Regions from separate parts of the Homo sapiens genome. Here region 1 is linked to region 2. Evidence: fine-mapped expression QTL. Tissue or cell type: whole blood. Region 2 holds a variant in brackets; the other region holds the start of a gene. All regions are shown on one strand. Distances are from middle to middle.

Region 1 (8,097 bases), 56 kb after region 2:
TGCCACCATGACCAGCTGATTTTTTTTTTCCTGTATTTTACAGAGATGGGGTTTTGCCATGTTGCCCACGCTGGTCTCAAACTCCTGGGCTCAAGCCATCCACCCGCCTCAGCTAGGAAGCTGTTTTATATTAAGTATCAACTATGTTTAAGGCCATGTATTAGACCAGCAGTTCTCAATAGCGAAGGAAAAGGATGATTTTGCTCCCCAGGGCACATCTGGCAATGTCTGCAGACATTTCTGATGGACATGACTCATGGGGTAGGGAGTGTCACTGGCATCTAGTGGGTAGAGACCAGAGGCGCTGCTGAATATCCTACAATACACAGGGGAGTCCCACAACAAAGAATCCTCTGACCCAACTGTCAACAGTGCCCAAAATGAGAACCCCTCATCTAGACCTGTCTCTTTTCTGATGTCCAACCCCAACAAACCTCATTCAAAGACGAGGAACTGAGGTTCAGAGACATGAATGACTTGCCTAAGTTTCCATAGACAGCCACTACCAGTGGCCAACTCTCTACTCCATCTGGCTTCAGGGTCTGTGGTCCATTCCACATACTACACTGTCTCTCTAGGAAGACATCCCCTTGTCCCCAGGCACCTTGGCCCTGGCAGATTATCTACGGCAAGGGTTACAAGTTTTGCCTTAAGGCATAAGCACCTCCCCACTTCATGATTAGAGGTTTTATGACTTTGCACTTGTAATCATTGTTTCTGCTCATTTTGCTGTGTGCTAAACATTTTATGAGGATTAACTCATTTTACCCCAAGGATATGTCACAGAGAGGTTAAGATCAGACACTAAGTGGCAGATTTGTGCTCTCGACCCAGATAAGAGGTCTCCAGGGACCAACCTCTCGGCCTCTCTACCGTGGTCCTCCTCATGCTTTGAACTTCGCCTTGGCAAAGTTGGGGCACAACAACCAATCCTTTAGCTGGGAACTGGGTGGGGGCAGAAACAGAGAGAGCCTCTACTTCAGACCATGCTGCCCAGCTGGGTGGTCCTAGAGAATCTGCCAGAATTTCAGCTCTTTTCCCATGCAATGCCCCAGGAGAAAAGACGCAGGCCTCTGAACAGAGATGAGACAATGTGCAGGGAACTCAAAGCCAGAGGGCGTGGGCAGGGGCTAAGAGGGAGGGGACCTTGGAGGGAAGGAATATGACATCCTCAGGACCTGTCCAAAGTTCTTGGAGCAAACCCAGCTATGCAAGTGAGGTTCCTGCAGTAGCCTCCACTCCAGCATCTCATTCTCATTAGCTGCAACTGATCTTATTAGCTATCCTGGGTCAGTTTGGATTTTGGCAAGCCTAGATTTGGCAATGGCCTCAACACAAAGATCGCACGGGGTAAGCAGGGATGCGCTGACACCCAGGAATGGATTCCACGAGGCAGCCTGCTGGGGGATGGCATTGAGTTCCAGCTCTGCCCCTTCCTGGCTTCATGACCTTTGCAGAGCCTTGGCGCTTCCTCTGACAAGTGGGGACTTGGGACCCAGCAGTCCCCAAGTCCCCATTGTAAATGTGAGGACTGGGGCTTGTGTCAGGGATCCTAGCACCTTAAGGGTCCTGGAGGGGTTGGGGCCAGCTGTCTCCCACAGGCTGGGTGACCTTGAGCAAGTCTCTTCCCCTTTTGTGCCTCTGTGTGTTTAACTGTCAAATGAAGGGGCCACGTCTTTAATGCAGAAGCCCTTTTAGGTCTTAGGACTCCAGACTGGACCATTTACCTCTCCCCGTGGCTAACCTCTTTGGGCCTCGAGAAAACACATTTCTCTATGACTCCACGCCGCAACACAGGCTCCAAAGAGCAAGACACAACTCACTGCCTCCCTCTCTCCTGCCTCCCAACCTGACCCACCAGAGAAGAGCTCTTCCCACCCCCTCCCCACCCCCAGGTCACCAACATCCTGTCCCTTAGTCTAGCTTCATCAAAGCAGCAAAGCCAACACTGTCTCCTCCCCAGTGGATGGGCCCAGCAGCACCCATTTCTCTTGGCTGAGTGCCCAGGGAATTCCACCAGGCAATGTCCACAGGCGCTTGCGGGGGTGCACACTTTAGGGGGGAAATGCGGGCCCTCTTGGAAGAGGGCCAGCTGTCCTCCCAGACTGCAAGAGAGAATGCATTGAACACAGCCTTTGTGCGTGTGTTGGGGCAGGGAGCGGGGGAGAGGTGGCGGGTGGTCTCTGCTGGTCCTGCTGCCTCAGAGGCCATCTCTGTTGTCAGAGTTTGAAGACTCCTGGAAGGGCCTCTAGGCCCCAGATCCCAGTTTTAAGAGCTCCAGTCTTACTAAATCTCGCTGAACCCCCTCTAGTCTTACCTTGGCCAGGGTGGGTGAGGAAAGGTGAGAGGATGTGAAATAGGTGGGGCAGCCAGGTGTGGGAGTGGAGTTGGGGTGAGGTGGAGAAGGATGGGATTGGGAGCGGTGGGAGGATGGTGCAGGGGGTTACTAGGATGGGGTTTGTGTGAAAGGGCTTGGGTGGAGTGGAGGGAGGTGGATGACTTGGAGGGGTGGCCAGACCTTTGCCCTGCTCCTGAGTATGAAGGTCCCTCATTTTACATCTTTACTGGGGAGGAGAGGGGAAATCCCCAAAAGCCTTTAATGTGGTGGTGTCAGAGGCCACCCTGCCTCTCTGACGGGTAGGGAGGGGTCTCCGGCAGGGCTAAGGGTGAATCATCTATCTCTCCAGAGCCCAGTATCTGGGGTGGGAGGGTGACTTGCAGAGTCTCTGCTCCGGGATTTCCTTGTCTTATGATGGGGGGAGAGCTTCCATTTGTCATGGAGGGGGAGGTCACTGTAATTTATAAGCTGAGAAGACCCCCATTATTCCGAAAGAGAGGGGAGAAGGAAGACACCCAAACTTAGTTTTCTAAGGATGGGGAAGGGGCATCAGTCTCCCAAGAGGTGAGGGGGCTCTAGAGACCTGGAGACCACTTTTTGGGGCCGCATTCTATTTCAAGCGGTAAAAGGGAGAGGACTTCTGTCTAGAGCTGGAGCCAGGAGGAAGGGCCCATTTCTGAAGGAGAAAGGAAGGTATTTTGCTCTCTGGGGGGTGGGAGCCCCTGTCTTTTCGGGGGAGGGCCCCGCGTCTTGGGAAGATGAGGGCTCCGTTTCCAGGAGAAGATGCCCAGGTTTTGCTCCTGGGGGCAGGGCAGAAGGACCTCCTCTCGGCTCCCCTCGGAAGGGCCCGTCCCAAGCCACCCGGCGCCTCGCGCTCACCTCCAGGCCCCGTCTCCGATCTGCGGGATCCGATCCGCCGGGTTCCGACTTGCGGGATGCGCGCCCCGAGTTCCGGCAGCGCTGGGTGTCTGCTCGACTTCCCCCAGCGACTCGCCGGACTCCCTGGCTCCGCCGAGCGTCCCGGCCAATCAGCGCCGCCAGCCCCGGCCCTCGCTTTCGCCACAGCCAATGGGTGCGCCCGCCACGGGCCACCGCCCCCAGGAGGGAGGTGGCAGGCGGGGCGGGGGCAGAGTCCAGCCTCCGGGGGCGGGGGAGACGGGGGCTGGGGCGGGACCCACCAGAGGGACCGCGAGGGCTGGGAGGGAGTCCTGGGACTGGGGAGGAGACGGCTGAGGACCCCCGTCAAGTTGTGGGGACCCTGACCCTCTGGGGGGCAGCTCCATAGGTTGATTTAACCTGGATCTTAATGGGCCATTTACACCCTCAGGGCTGCAGGCGAGTGTAACTCCACCTCCACCCGCGTCTCGGATCCGGTCTCTGGAGCTCCAGAGTCGGAATCAGAAGGGGTTCCTTTGCGGAGAAGGGAAGGAGCATCCCGCCCTCCCCACCTCACTCCCCATCTCGGCGCTCAGGGCCCTGCCAGCCCTTCTTGCTCCCAGCTACTTTCCTCCGCCTGGCCCCAGCGCTCCGGAAGACAAACAGGGCGCTGGGAGTCAGAGGTGGTTCCTTCTGCATGACCTGGAGCAGGTCACTGCGCCTCCTGATCCTCAATTTCCTGAAATTGGGACAACAGAGATTGTACCTCCTTCGTGGGTATAAACGAGACCCTAGATATGATGAAGGTGCCTTTCTACCGTTGTATAAAATGCTGTGTGGAAGATAATTAATACTCAGGTGTGACGGATGGATAGCCCCCCCACAGCTTTCTAGAGGTATTTGGAAAGAGGATGCAATCTTTCAGTGACAAAATCAAAGACACAAAGAACTGCTCATCAAGACAACAGGCGATCACCAAGTCCTCATAATGAATGAATGGATGGATGGAGAGTACAGACCTTAAAGGCAGAGAAAGAGTTCAGCTTGGTTCTCCCCACTCACCCTGATCACTGATAACTTGGTCTGTGGAGTCTTGTAGAACCCTGAGGTCTCTCCTCCTGCTGTCCAGGAATCCAGGCTGCCCTATCTCTGATTACACAAGCGCTATAGTCCTTGCAATTAAAGAATTAAGATAAAGTAAACACATAGATAAATAGAAAGCTGCCAAACAAATCATTCACCTCCTAGTGTCACCTCTGGGGACCCTCCCCCCCAACACACACACACACACACACACACACACACACACACACACACAGAGCAGTAAATAAGAATAATTGAGGCCTGGCACAGTGGCTTACGCCTGTAATTCCAGCACTTTGGGAGGCCGAGGCAGGCAGATCACTTGATGCCCAGAGCTCGAGACCAGCCTGGCCATCATGGGGAAACCCCCTTTCTATTAAAAATACAAAAATTAGCCTGGCATGGTGGCACCTGCCTGTAATCCCAGCTACCTGGGAGGCTGAGACATGAGAATCGCTTGAATGGAGAGGCAGTGGTTGCACTGAGGTGAGATGGCACCACTGCACTCTAGCCTGGGTGATTGTCACCTTGCTTGAGGAACTTGATGAGGCCTGTGCTGAAAATCTAGCAATTTTTTCTTAAAACCAAAGCCATGAACATAATCCCCTTTACTACCCTTGACCTGCCCAAAGAAATACAACGGCCAATAAACATGGGAGATGACACTTTGAAAAGGAAAGGCAAGTTAAAACCAAAAGAGGGAAAGAGTTTACCTACCAAAATGACCTTGTTTTTATTATTATAATTACTATTCTTTGCAAAGACTTCAAGGAGTTTCATGTATTGATGATGGCAGTAGAAAGATCACAGCCTTTCTGGAGGGAAATTGGGTATTTCTATTTTAAAAATCTTAAAAGTAAGTTGACCCTTTGATCTAGCAATCCAATCCCTATGAACTTATCTGAAAACATTTAAAGGTACAAAGATTTAATGATAAAGTAGCTTACTACCATTTTGTTTATCACAGGGAAAAACTGGGAACAACTTGAATGCACAACAGCAGGGACTCAGAGGGAAATTGTTGCATGAAATTGAACAATAAACATAGGTATGAAATATTGAATGGGGCTGGGTGTGGTGACACGCCTGTAATTCCAGCACTTTGGGAAGCCAAGGCAAGAGGATCGCTTGAGCCAAGGAGTTCAAGACCAGCCTGGGTAACATAGTGAAACCCTGTCTCTACAAAAAATACAAAAATTATCCGGGCGATGTGGCGCATGCATGTAGTCCCAGCTACTCAGGAGACTGAGGCAGCCTTGAGCCTGGGAGGTTGAGGCTGCTGTGGGCCAAGATTACACCACTGTACTCCAGCTGGGTGACAGAGTGAGACCCTGTCTCAAAAACAAAACAAAACAAATCTCAAAATGTTAAGTTATTTGCAAAAACAGTATATTTGGTACTGTCTTACTTTTTGTTAAACATCTTACTTTTTGTTAAATCTACCAGGTAGAGCTAGATCAATGCTGTGTAATATAACTTTCTATGATGCTCTATATCTGTGCCGTCCCGTGTGGTAGCCACTAGCCACATGGAGGTATTGAACACCTGAAATGACTAATTTTGGTATCCAAGATGTTTAAAAAAAAAAAAGAAAGAAAGAAATAATAAAAAAAGGAAAAGGGAAAAATAAATTTAAAATTTTGGAAAAAGCAATGACTAGTTAACCGAATAACTGTATTTTAATTGTATCTATTTATTTATTTTTTTAGAGACGGAGTCTCGCTCTGTCACCCAGGCTGGAGTGCAGTGGTGTGATCTCAGCTCGCTGCAACCTCTGCCTCCCAGGTTCAAGCGGTTCTCCTGCCTAAGCCTCCTGAGTAGTTGGGATTACAAGCGTGCTCCACCACGCCTGGCTCGTTGTTTAATTTTTTAATTTTTAGTAGAGACAGGGTTTCGTCATGTTGGCCAGGCTGGTCTCAAACTCCTGGCCTCCAGTGATCTGCCTGCCTCAGCCTCCCAAAGTGCTGGGATTACAGGTGTGAACCACCACGCCCAGCCTGTATCTAATTTTAATTTAAGGTGTAACAGTAACAGGTAGCTAGTGGCTATCATATTAAAAGGCACCGATATAGCTAGCTAGCAATGCTGAGTGAAAAACTGTGTTCAGTAGGAGAATGGTTATTTTTGTGTATTGAAATTATAGATTATTCTAATATTACTTTATTTGCATGTCCATGTCAGTAATTTCTTTTTATCCCCTTGGGTTTATTTTTAATAGAGGATAAACTTTACAATGTCACTAATTTCTAATTATTCTGTAATGAATATATATTACTCTGGTACTAAGAAGAAAATATTTAAAATGAAAAACAGAAAGGAAAAGTCTAAACCAAAGGGCCCGGAGTGGTGGCTCACACCTGTAATCCCAGTATTCTGGGAGGCTGAGGCGGGCAGATCACTTGAGGCCAGGGGTTCGAGACCAGCCTGGCCAACATGGCGAAACCCCATCTCTATTTATAAATAATTTTTTTTTAAAAAAGAGTCTAAGCCAAAGGTTGACAAACTATAGCTCATAGACCAAATGTAGTTCATCATGTTTTCCTATGACCATGAGCTAAGATTGGTTTTACATATTAAATGGTTAAAAAAATTCACAAGAAGAATAATGTTATGTGACACATAGAAACTACATAAAATTCAAATTTTACTGTGCATAAATAAAATTTTATGGGAACACAGCCAGGCCTATTTATTTATGCATTGTCTATGGCTGTCTGTGAGCTACAACAGCAGAGCTGAGTAGCTGTGACAGAGACTCTGTGACCTGAAAAGACAACAATATTTACCTTCCAGCCCTTTGCGAAAAATCTGCCGTGTCCTGGTCTAAGGCAATCAAGGGAAATAAGAAGTGTGTGTAGCCATCTTCATTCATCTGTTCATTCATTCATTCAACTAGGTTTTGAGCACCCATTTGTGGGTCAGGCCCTAGGAAAGGGCACTTCTAGAGGATAAAAGGAGCTGCTTTGTCTCTACTTAAGGACTAGGGAGAGAAGGCTATTTAGAGCCAGGTGCTTTGCAAGCTGATTCTCAAATAGCTTCATTGTGATACTTGTGAAGAAAACTGTCAGCATGTGGAAAAAGCCCTTTCCATATTGGCTTCCCTTGCATTTTCTGCCATTCTGCAGTTTTCCTATGGAGCTGCTTGGGGTTGCAGCTGTCTGCCAGGGAATGCAGAGTGTTTCCCAGAGTTTGGCTGAGGCCTGGGATGAAGACTCACCCATACTCTGTGCCTATCAATAAGCTCCTTCCAGAAGCGCAGCTGTAGCTGGGAGGGCCCCCACTGCACTCTGGAGAGGAGAAATGAAAACAAAGGCAAGGGTGAATGAGGCTCCAAGGGTACCAGTTGTCTCCACAGGAGAGACTCTTAGAGATCAGCAGCCCATTGTACAGAAGAGGAGACTGAGGCCCAGAGAGGAGGAATAACTTGTCCAGAGCCAGATTAAAGCACATATTTTATTGACTAGGCCTGTGATTTCCACATCCCTGGTCACAAAATAATAAAGAGATATCATCTATACAAAATAATAAAGGGCATTTTGATGTGGTGGAAAGGGGATCAACTTGGGAGTCAGACCTAATATTGAATTCTAGTTCCAACTCCCAATGGCTATGTGACTCTGGACATGTCATTTACTCCCTCTCAGTCTCTATGTTCTAATCTGTAAATTGAATAAAGTATCTACCACGTTTTCACATGTAAAAGAAAGAAGATAGACGCTTACCTCACACCATATAAAAAAACTAACTCAACATTGGATCAAAGACCTAAATAAATATAAGACCTAACACTATAAAATTCT
Region 2 (8,105 bases):
AGGCCTGGAGCTTACATCTTCATGAGGAACAAAGAGAATGAAATGAATCATAACATAAACAAGGGCATCATTATAATGGGGAGAAGTGCCTTGAAGGAAAAGTGAAAGGTGCTAGGAGCATGATTTATCAGGCTTCTTTCACGTGCCAGCAACAATGGGGCAGGCGTGATTATCCCCATTTTACAGATGAGGAAACTGAGGCTCCAGAAGTGAGGTATTTTAACCCATGTTCACTGTAGCATTATTCACAATAGCCAAGAGGTGGAAGCAACCTAGACGTCCATTGACAGATGAATGGGAAAAAATATGCTGTATCCACAGAGTGGAATATTATGCAGCCTTAAAAAAGGAGGAAATCCTGTTATATGCTGCAACATGGATGAGACTGGAAGACATTATGCTAAGTGAAATAAGCCAGTCACCAAAGGTCAGATACTGCATGATTCCTGTCATATGAAACCTAAAGTAGATTAAGATTCAGTTCCCTCTCCCTCTCCCTCTCCCTCTCTTTCCACGGTCTCCCTCTCATGCTGAGCCGAAGCTGGACTGTACTGCTGCCATCTCGGCTCACTGCAACCTCCCTGCCTGATTCTCCTGCCTCAGCCTGCCGAGTGCCTGCGATTGCAGCCTCACGCCGCCACGCCTGACTGGTTTTGGTGGAGACGGGGTTTCGCTGTGTTGGCCAGGCCGGTCTCCAGCCCCTAACCGCAAGTGATCCGCCAGCCTCGGCCTCCCGAGGTGCCGGGATTACAGACGGAGTCTCGTTCACTCAGTGCTCAATGGTGCCCAGGCTGGAGTGCAGCGGCGTGATCTCGGCTTGCTACAACCTCCACCTCCCAGCCGCCTGCCTTGGCCTCCCAAAGTGCCGAGATTGCAGCCTCTGCCCGGCCGCCACCCCGTCTGGGAAGTGAGGAGCGTCTCTGCCTGGCCGCCCATCGTCTGGGATGTGAGGAGCCCCTCGGCCTGGCTGCCCAGTCTGGAAAGTGAGGAGCGTCTCCGCCCGGCCGCCATCCCACCTAGGAAGTGAGGACCACCTCTTCCCGGCCGCCATCACATCTAGGAAGTGAGGAGCGTCTCTGCCCGGCCGCCCCGTCTGAGAAGTGAGGAGCCCCTCCACCCGGCAGCCGCCCCGTCTGGGAAGTGAGGAGCGTCTCCGCCTGGCAGCCACCCCGTCCGGGAGGGAGGTGGGGGGGGGTCAGCCCCCCGCCCGGCCAGCCGCCCCATCCGGGAGGGAGGTGGGGGGGTCAGCCCCCCGCCCGGCCAGCCGCCCCATCCGGGAGGGAGGTGGGGGGATCAGCCCCCTGCCAGGCCAGCCGCCCCGTCCGGGAGGGAGGTGGGGGCATCAGCCCCCCGCCCGGCCAGCCGCCCCGTCCGGGAGGGAGGTAGGGGGGTCAGCCCCCCGCCCGGCCAGCCGCCCCGTCCGGAGGTGAGGGGCGCCTCTGCCCGGCCTCCCCTACTGGGAAGTGAGGAGCCCCTCTGCCCGGCCAGCCGCCCCGTCCGGGAGGTGAGGGGCGCCTCTGCCCGGCCGCCCCTACTGGGAAGTGAGGAGCCCCTCTGCCCGGCCACCACCCCGTCTGGGAGGTGTGCCCGACAGCTCATTGAGAACGGGCCAGGATGACAATGGCGGTTTTGTGGAATAGAAAGGCGGGAAAGGTGGGGAAAAGATTGAGAAATCGGATGGTTGCCGTGTCTGTGTAGAAAGAAGTAGACATGGGAGACTTTTCATTTTGTTCTGTGCTAAGAAAACTTCTTCTGCCTTGGGATCCTGTTGATCTGTGACCTTACCCCCAACCCCGTGCTCTCTGAAACATGTGCTGTGTCCACTCAGGGTTAAATGGATTAAGGGCGGTGCAAGATGTGCTTTGTTAAACAGATGCTTGAAGGCAGCAGGCTCGTTAAGAGTCATCACCACTCCCTAATCTCAAGTACCCAGGGACACAAACACTGCGGAAGGCCGCAGGGTCCTCTGCCTAGGAAAACCAGAGACCTTTGTTCACTTGTTTATCTGCCGACCTTCCCTCCACTATTGTCCTATGACCCTGCCAAATCCCCCTCTGTGAGAAACACCCAAGAATTATCAATAAAAAATAAATAAATTAAAAAAACAAACAAACAAAAAAAAAAAACAAAAAAAACCTAAAGTAGTCAACCTCCTAGAAACAGATAGAGGGTCTGGGCATGGTGACTCATGCCTCTAATCCCAGCACTTTGGGAGGCCGAGATGGGTGGATCACTTGAGGTCAGGTGTTCAAGACCAGCCTGGCCAACATAGTGAAACCCCGTCTCTACCAAACATAAAAAATTACCCGGGCGTGGTTGTGAGCTCCTGTAATCCCAGCTACTTGGGAGGCTGAGGCAGGAGAATCACTTCAACTCGGGAGGCAGAGGTTACAGTGAGCTGAGATCGCACCACTGCACTCCAGCCTGGGCGACAGGGCGAGACTCTGTTTCAAGGAGGAAAAAAAGAGAAACAGAAAAAGAGGAAAAAGAGGTTGCCGAGGGCTGGGGGAAGGGAAAAAAGGACATTGTTTAGTGTGTTTGGAGTTTCAGTTTGCAGGATGAAGTAGTTCTGGAGCTTCACTATACAACAAAAGTGCTTATAATACCGTACTGTATACTTGAAAATGGTGAAGATGGTAAATTTTATGTTATCTGTGTGATTTTTAAAATAACAATTAAAAAAAAAAAAAGAAAAGTGATCCAGGAAAGACATTGGTGTTGAGGTTGACATACCTATCAAGGACAACTAGACAACTACCACGGCTTCCAGTGCTTTGACAAAACTCAGGTGTGTGGCCTTCTGGTCCAGAGTCTGCCATTTCACATTGTTGGAGCAGTCATTGTATCCCTGAGAGTTGCAGCTCTCTATAAGTTTGCTGTGGCTGAACCAAGAAACAAGGCATATGTAGAAGCGATGAGGATGGCTGTTATTGTTCAGAGTGCAAAGTGATTTTGGAATATAAAGAATTTCTTTGGGTTGAGTTACCTAGAAGTTTATCACTGACCTGTGTTCCTGAACTATGAAACATGAATATGGGGGCTAAGAAATAGTTTCTCTTTGGGCTGGCAGGGTGGCTCACTCCTGTAATCCCGGAATTTTGGGAGGCCAAGGCAGGTGGATCACTTGAGGTCAGGAGTTCGAGATCAGCATGGCCAACACAGTAAAACCCTGTCTCTACTAAAAATACAAAAATTAGCTGGGTGTGGTGGTGCACGCCTGTAATCCCAGCTACTCAGGAGTCTGAGGCACAAGAATCGCTTGAACCTGGGAGGCGGAGATGGCAGTGAGCCAAGATCACACCACCGCACTCCAGTCTGGGTGATAGAGTGAGACACCGTCTCACACACAAAAAATTAGAAATAGTTTCTCTTGATAAATAAACAATTAATGAGTACTTTGGACAGTAAACAAAGTAAAACTATTTTTTTTAAAAGAAGCCATGTGGTTTACCCAGGACACAGCAAGTTGCTGGTGGAGCCAGCGTTGGGGTTGAGAGATATCTGGCTCAGGAGTCCTGGCTTGTGCCTAATGCATGGATTTATTGCGAGTTGCAACACCTGAAACTTACTCTGTGACAGACCCTGGGGACGCAGCCCTTTCCTCATGCAGCCCTGGCTTGGGCTGCCTAACTCTACCCAGCCCCACAGTGGACAGAAATTCCATCCTAGACCTGGATGAAGACCAAGAGGCTTCTCCCACCCCCTGCTTCTGTGATGACAGCATATAGGAAGTGCCAACCAGAGGTGATAAATACAGACCTAGAGAGATCCCACAGCTGGAGGGGAGGCCTGTATCCAAGGAGAGAGAACAGGGCAAGGAGGAATGACAGGCGGGTTCAGAGTACAGGTTCAGGTGCTGGGAAACACGTGGGCTCAGCAGCACAGGGCAGGAATAGTGTGGAGAATCAGGCACCGAGCCCAGGATGGCGAGTTCCAGCACGCTGTGGCTGCCCACAGAGCTAATAGAATGTTGGCTGTATTATTAGAAGGAAAGAGTGAATGAAGGAGGGAGGCGGTTGCCATTGATGCATTTGTGCTACGAACATTCATGGTACACCTACCGTGTGCCAGACCCTTCACTGGGCACTAGGGCACATAAAGATCAATTAGAGGCCGTCCTTACCCTCTAAGCATCATCAAGTACTGGGCACTTGCTATGTGCAGGCTCTCAGCTGGTGCTGTAGAACCATCTCGTTTCATCCCCAGAGCCCTAGGAGGCAGCTCCTAGAAGACAGAGACAGGTCATTATCCTGTCTTCAGGCAACTGAGGTACTATCACGGGTGGGGTGGGGTTGGTGCAGGAAGTATCTTCTGGGGTGTCTGCTCTGCAC[T/C]TCCTTCCTCCCCCTTCTCAGATACTTCCCCATTCCTCTGCGGGGGCATAGACCTGGCCCTACTGGCCATGGTTGACTAGACAGGGCTGGGCCAGAGTCCTGACACTCTCTACCCACTGAGATGATCCAGCATTCAAACAGGGTCTTTTTTTTTTTTTTTTTTAAGACAAAAAAGGGCTAGACAAAAGAAAGACTAGAGAGCAGTGGCGTGATCATTGCTCACTGCAGCCTTGAACTCCTGGGCTCAAGAGATCCTCCCACCTTAGCCCTGCCAAGTAGCTGGGACTACAGGCATGCACCACCATACCCAGCTAATTTTTAAATATATATATTTTTTAGAGACAGGGGTCTCGCTGTGTTGCCCAGGCTGGTCTCAAACTCCTGTGCTCAAATGATCCTCCCATCTTGGCTCCTGAAGTGCTGGGATTATAGGCATGAGGCATGGTGCCTGGTCTTTGTGAGACATTCTGAAGGGTACATTACTCCCTTCTCTTTGCTCAAACATCTATAGGAGTAGGGTAATCTCCCTGTTCAGAGATGATAAAAGGGAGGCTCAGAGAGGTTATGACATTCGGCCTCAGTCATAGGCTTACCTGAGACTGTCTGACCCCAAAGCCCCTGCCTCTATGCATTGTAACATCAGTTAATCCAGCTAATAACAAAACTCCTAGCTGTTTTTGTTTTTGTTGAGACAGGGTCTGGCTCTGTCACTCAGGCTGGAGAGCAGTGGTGTAATCTTAGCTTACTGCAACCTCTGCCTCCCCCAGGGTCAGGCCATCCTGCCACCTCCCAAGTACCTGGAACTACAGGCGAACGCCGCCACGCCCAGCTAATTTTTTTTTTTTTCAGTAGAGCCAGGTTTTTCTCACGTTGTGAAGGATGGTCTTGAACTCCTGAGCTCAAGTAATCTGCCTGCCTTGGCCTCCCAACGTGCTGAGATTACAGGCGTGAGCCACCGTGCCCGGCCCCTAGCTATTGTTGATATGAGGCTTCATGAATAAAAATGACGTAGTTCACAGAATAAATTTTATTGCTTTTCACCAGAGGAAACTTTCTGAGAAAGTGTGGGCTTGGAAAGTGTGGCCATGAATTAACTGAGAAACCAAACTCTTTGTTTTTGAGATGGAGTCTTGTTCTGTTGCCAGGCTGGAGTACAGTGGCGTGATCTCGGCTCACTGCAACCTCTGACTCCCTGGTTCAAGCGATTCTCCTGCCTCAGCCTCCCGAGTAGCTGGGATTATAGGCATGTGCCACCACACCTGGCTAATTTGTGTATTTTTAGTAGAAATGAGGTTTTACCATGTTGGCCAGAAGGTTCTCAATCTCCTGACCTTGTGATCCACCCGCCTCTGCCTCCCAAAGTGCTGGAATTACAGGTGTGAGCCACTGTGCATGGCCCAAACTCTTTTCTTAATAACTCAATGGATTTTTTTTTTCTATTCCAGGATATCCGACTCAATGCAAGCCTATTAATTTAGCAACAGAGTAACTGTGTAGAAAGTGCAGTTCATGTCTTTCCCTTAAAACCACTTGTCTGAAACAGGGAGCACTGAGGCGTCACACAATTCAATTTCCATTAAACACGTTTTTGAAACTCCGAATGTCTCAGAGAACTCAACATTTGAATATTCTGCAAAAGTGAGAGCCAATCCCACACGTTTTCAATTACAAAATGTCACATTGGAAAATATACCGTGGTGACATTTTGGTGGCCTGCAGTTGAAAATTGACCTTATAACAAAATCTGATCTCTGTTAGACATTAATTCTTAGCACAATATATTTCAAACAATTGGAAGAGTTAACGTCATTCATTCACTCCCTCTCATCCACTAATTCAATCAACACAAGTTAATTAGGCACCTGTTATCAGCAAGGCACTGCATCGTTTAGATATAATCAATCTCTCTCTCTCTCTCTCTCTGACAGGGTCTCACTCTGTCGCCCAGGCTGGAGTGCAGTGGGGCGATCAGGGCTCACTGCAGCCTCTATCGCCCGGGCTCTAGCAATCTTCCCATCTCAGCCGTCCAAGTAGCTGGGACTACAGGCATGTGCCATCATGCCTGGCTAATTTTTTTAAATTTTTAGTAGAGATGAGGTCTTGCTATTTTGCCCAGGCTGGTCTCAAACTCTTGAGCTCAAGTGATCCTACCATCTTGGACTCCCAAACGGTTGGGATTACAGGCATGAGCCACCGCTCCTGGCCAAGTCATCACTTCTCTTAGGAGAAACCAAGATGGATAAATTGCTTTCTTTCTGAAGCTCATAATTTAGTGGCAGAGAACTATGAGCGGAAAGAAAATGGAAGAATTTAATGTACTAGGCTGCTTTACCCATCATGTGAATACTTTCTTAAAATAACTCAGCATGATATGTACATAAAAATTTTCCAGTTCACTGTCAACAACAAATTCTGCATAAGATAGAACAGAATCACAACTATTTTGCTGGTGTGAGTGAAGTGCTAAGGGAATACGGGGAGATTCTTTCTGGCTGGGGTGACAATGTCAGGGAGGTGTTGCCTGAGCTGCATCTTCAAAAGTTAGGCGATTTCAGAAGGCAATGAAGAAAGCAGGGATAAGGCAAGTGCTCGGAGGTGTATGATGACACGGAGTAGCTAAGGATCCTGGTGCACAGTGAGAGTGGGTGTGGTAAGAAATCATAGAGCACTTGGAGGGAAGGTGAAGGTGCGGTCATCTGGAGCCAACTCGAGCAACAATTTCTAGGCTGATCTTGATTGATAGGGCCCTCTGGAGACCCTCTCAAAGGGAGGAGGGAGCCCAGCTGCTCTAGTTGCATCCAGAAGGGTCTGTCCTCCAGCAAAGGATACAACCAACAAAGCGAAGAGGCAACCCACAGAACAAGAGAAAATATTTACAAACTACTCCTCTCACAAGGGATTAATAACCAGAATATAAAAAGGAGGTCAAACAACTCTATAGAAAAAAATCTCATAATTCGATCAAAAAATGGACAAAAGATTTGAATAGATATTTCTCAAAAGAAGACATACAAATGGCAAGCAAGCACATGAAAAGGTGCTTGACATCACTGATCATCAGAGAAGGCAAATCAAAACTACAAAGAGCTGTCATCTCACCCCAGTTAACATGGCTTATATCCAAAAGACAGGCAATAACAAATGCTGGAGAGGATGTGGAGCAAAGGGAACCCTTGTACATTGTTAGTGGGAATGTAAACTAGTACAACCACTATGGAGAACAGTTGGAGGTTCCTCAAAAAACTAAAAATTGAGCTACCATATGATCCAGGAATCCCACTGCTGGGTAAATACACAAAAGGAAGGAACTCAGTATATCGAAGAGATATCTGCACTCCTATGTTTGTTGCAGCATTGCTTACAATAGCTAAGATTTGGAAGCAACCTGAGTGTCCAATAACAGATGAATGGATAAAGAAAATGTGGTTCATACACGCAATGGAGTACTATTCAGCGCAGTGGCTCACACCTGTAATCCCAGCACTTTGGGAGGCTGAGGCAGGTGGATCCCATGAGGCCAGCCTGGCGAACATGGCTAAACCCCATCTCTACAAAAAACAAAAATCATCTGGGTGTGGTGACCCATGCCTGTAGTCCCAGTTACTAGGGAGGCTGAGGCAGGAGAATCGCTTGAACCCGGGAGGCAGAGGTTGCAGTGAGCCGAGATGGCGCCACTGCACTCCAGCCTGGGCAACAGATCGAGACTCCATCTCAAAAAAAAAAAAAAAAGATCTAGTCATTTGCAACAACGTGGATGGAACTGGAGATCATCAT

Evidence for each region. PIP is the estimated chance that this variant, and not a neighbour inherited with it, causes the effect.
Region 1: it holds the start of ABAT, and the variant in region 2 is fine-mapped to the expression of ABAT in whole blood (INTERVAL, PIP above 0.99).

Annotation. Positions count from the first base shown.
Region 1 is chr16:8,669,832-8,677,928 of GRCh38, reverse strand. ABAT (4-aminobutyrate aminotransferase) reads right to left here and starts at 3,312. Exons shown (of 16, transcript NM_020686.6): 1 at 3,218-3,312. RefSeq lists a silencer at 3,260-3,719 and enhancers at 3,314-3,813, 3,814-4,315.
Region 2 is chr16:8,726,218-8,734,322 of GRCh38, reverse strand. The region is part of intron 1 of ABAT (4-aminobutyrate aminotransferase); the gene reads right to left. Among named protein-coding and RNA genes, the nearest start is that of ABAT, 56 kb to the right of the region's middle. RefSeq lists an enhancer at 1,684-2,269 and a silencer at 6,930-7,158. The variant T/C (reference allele first, on the strand shown) is at 4,332.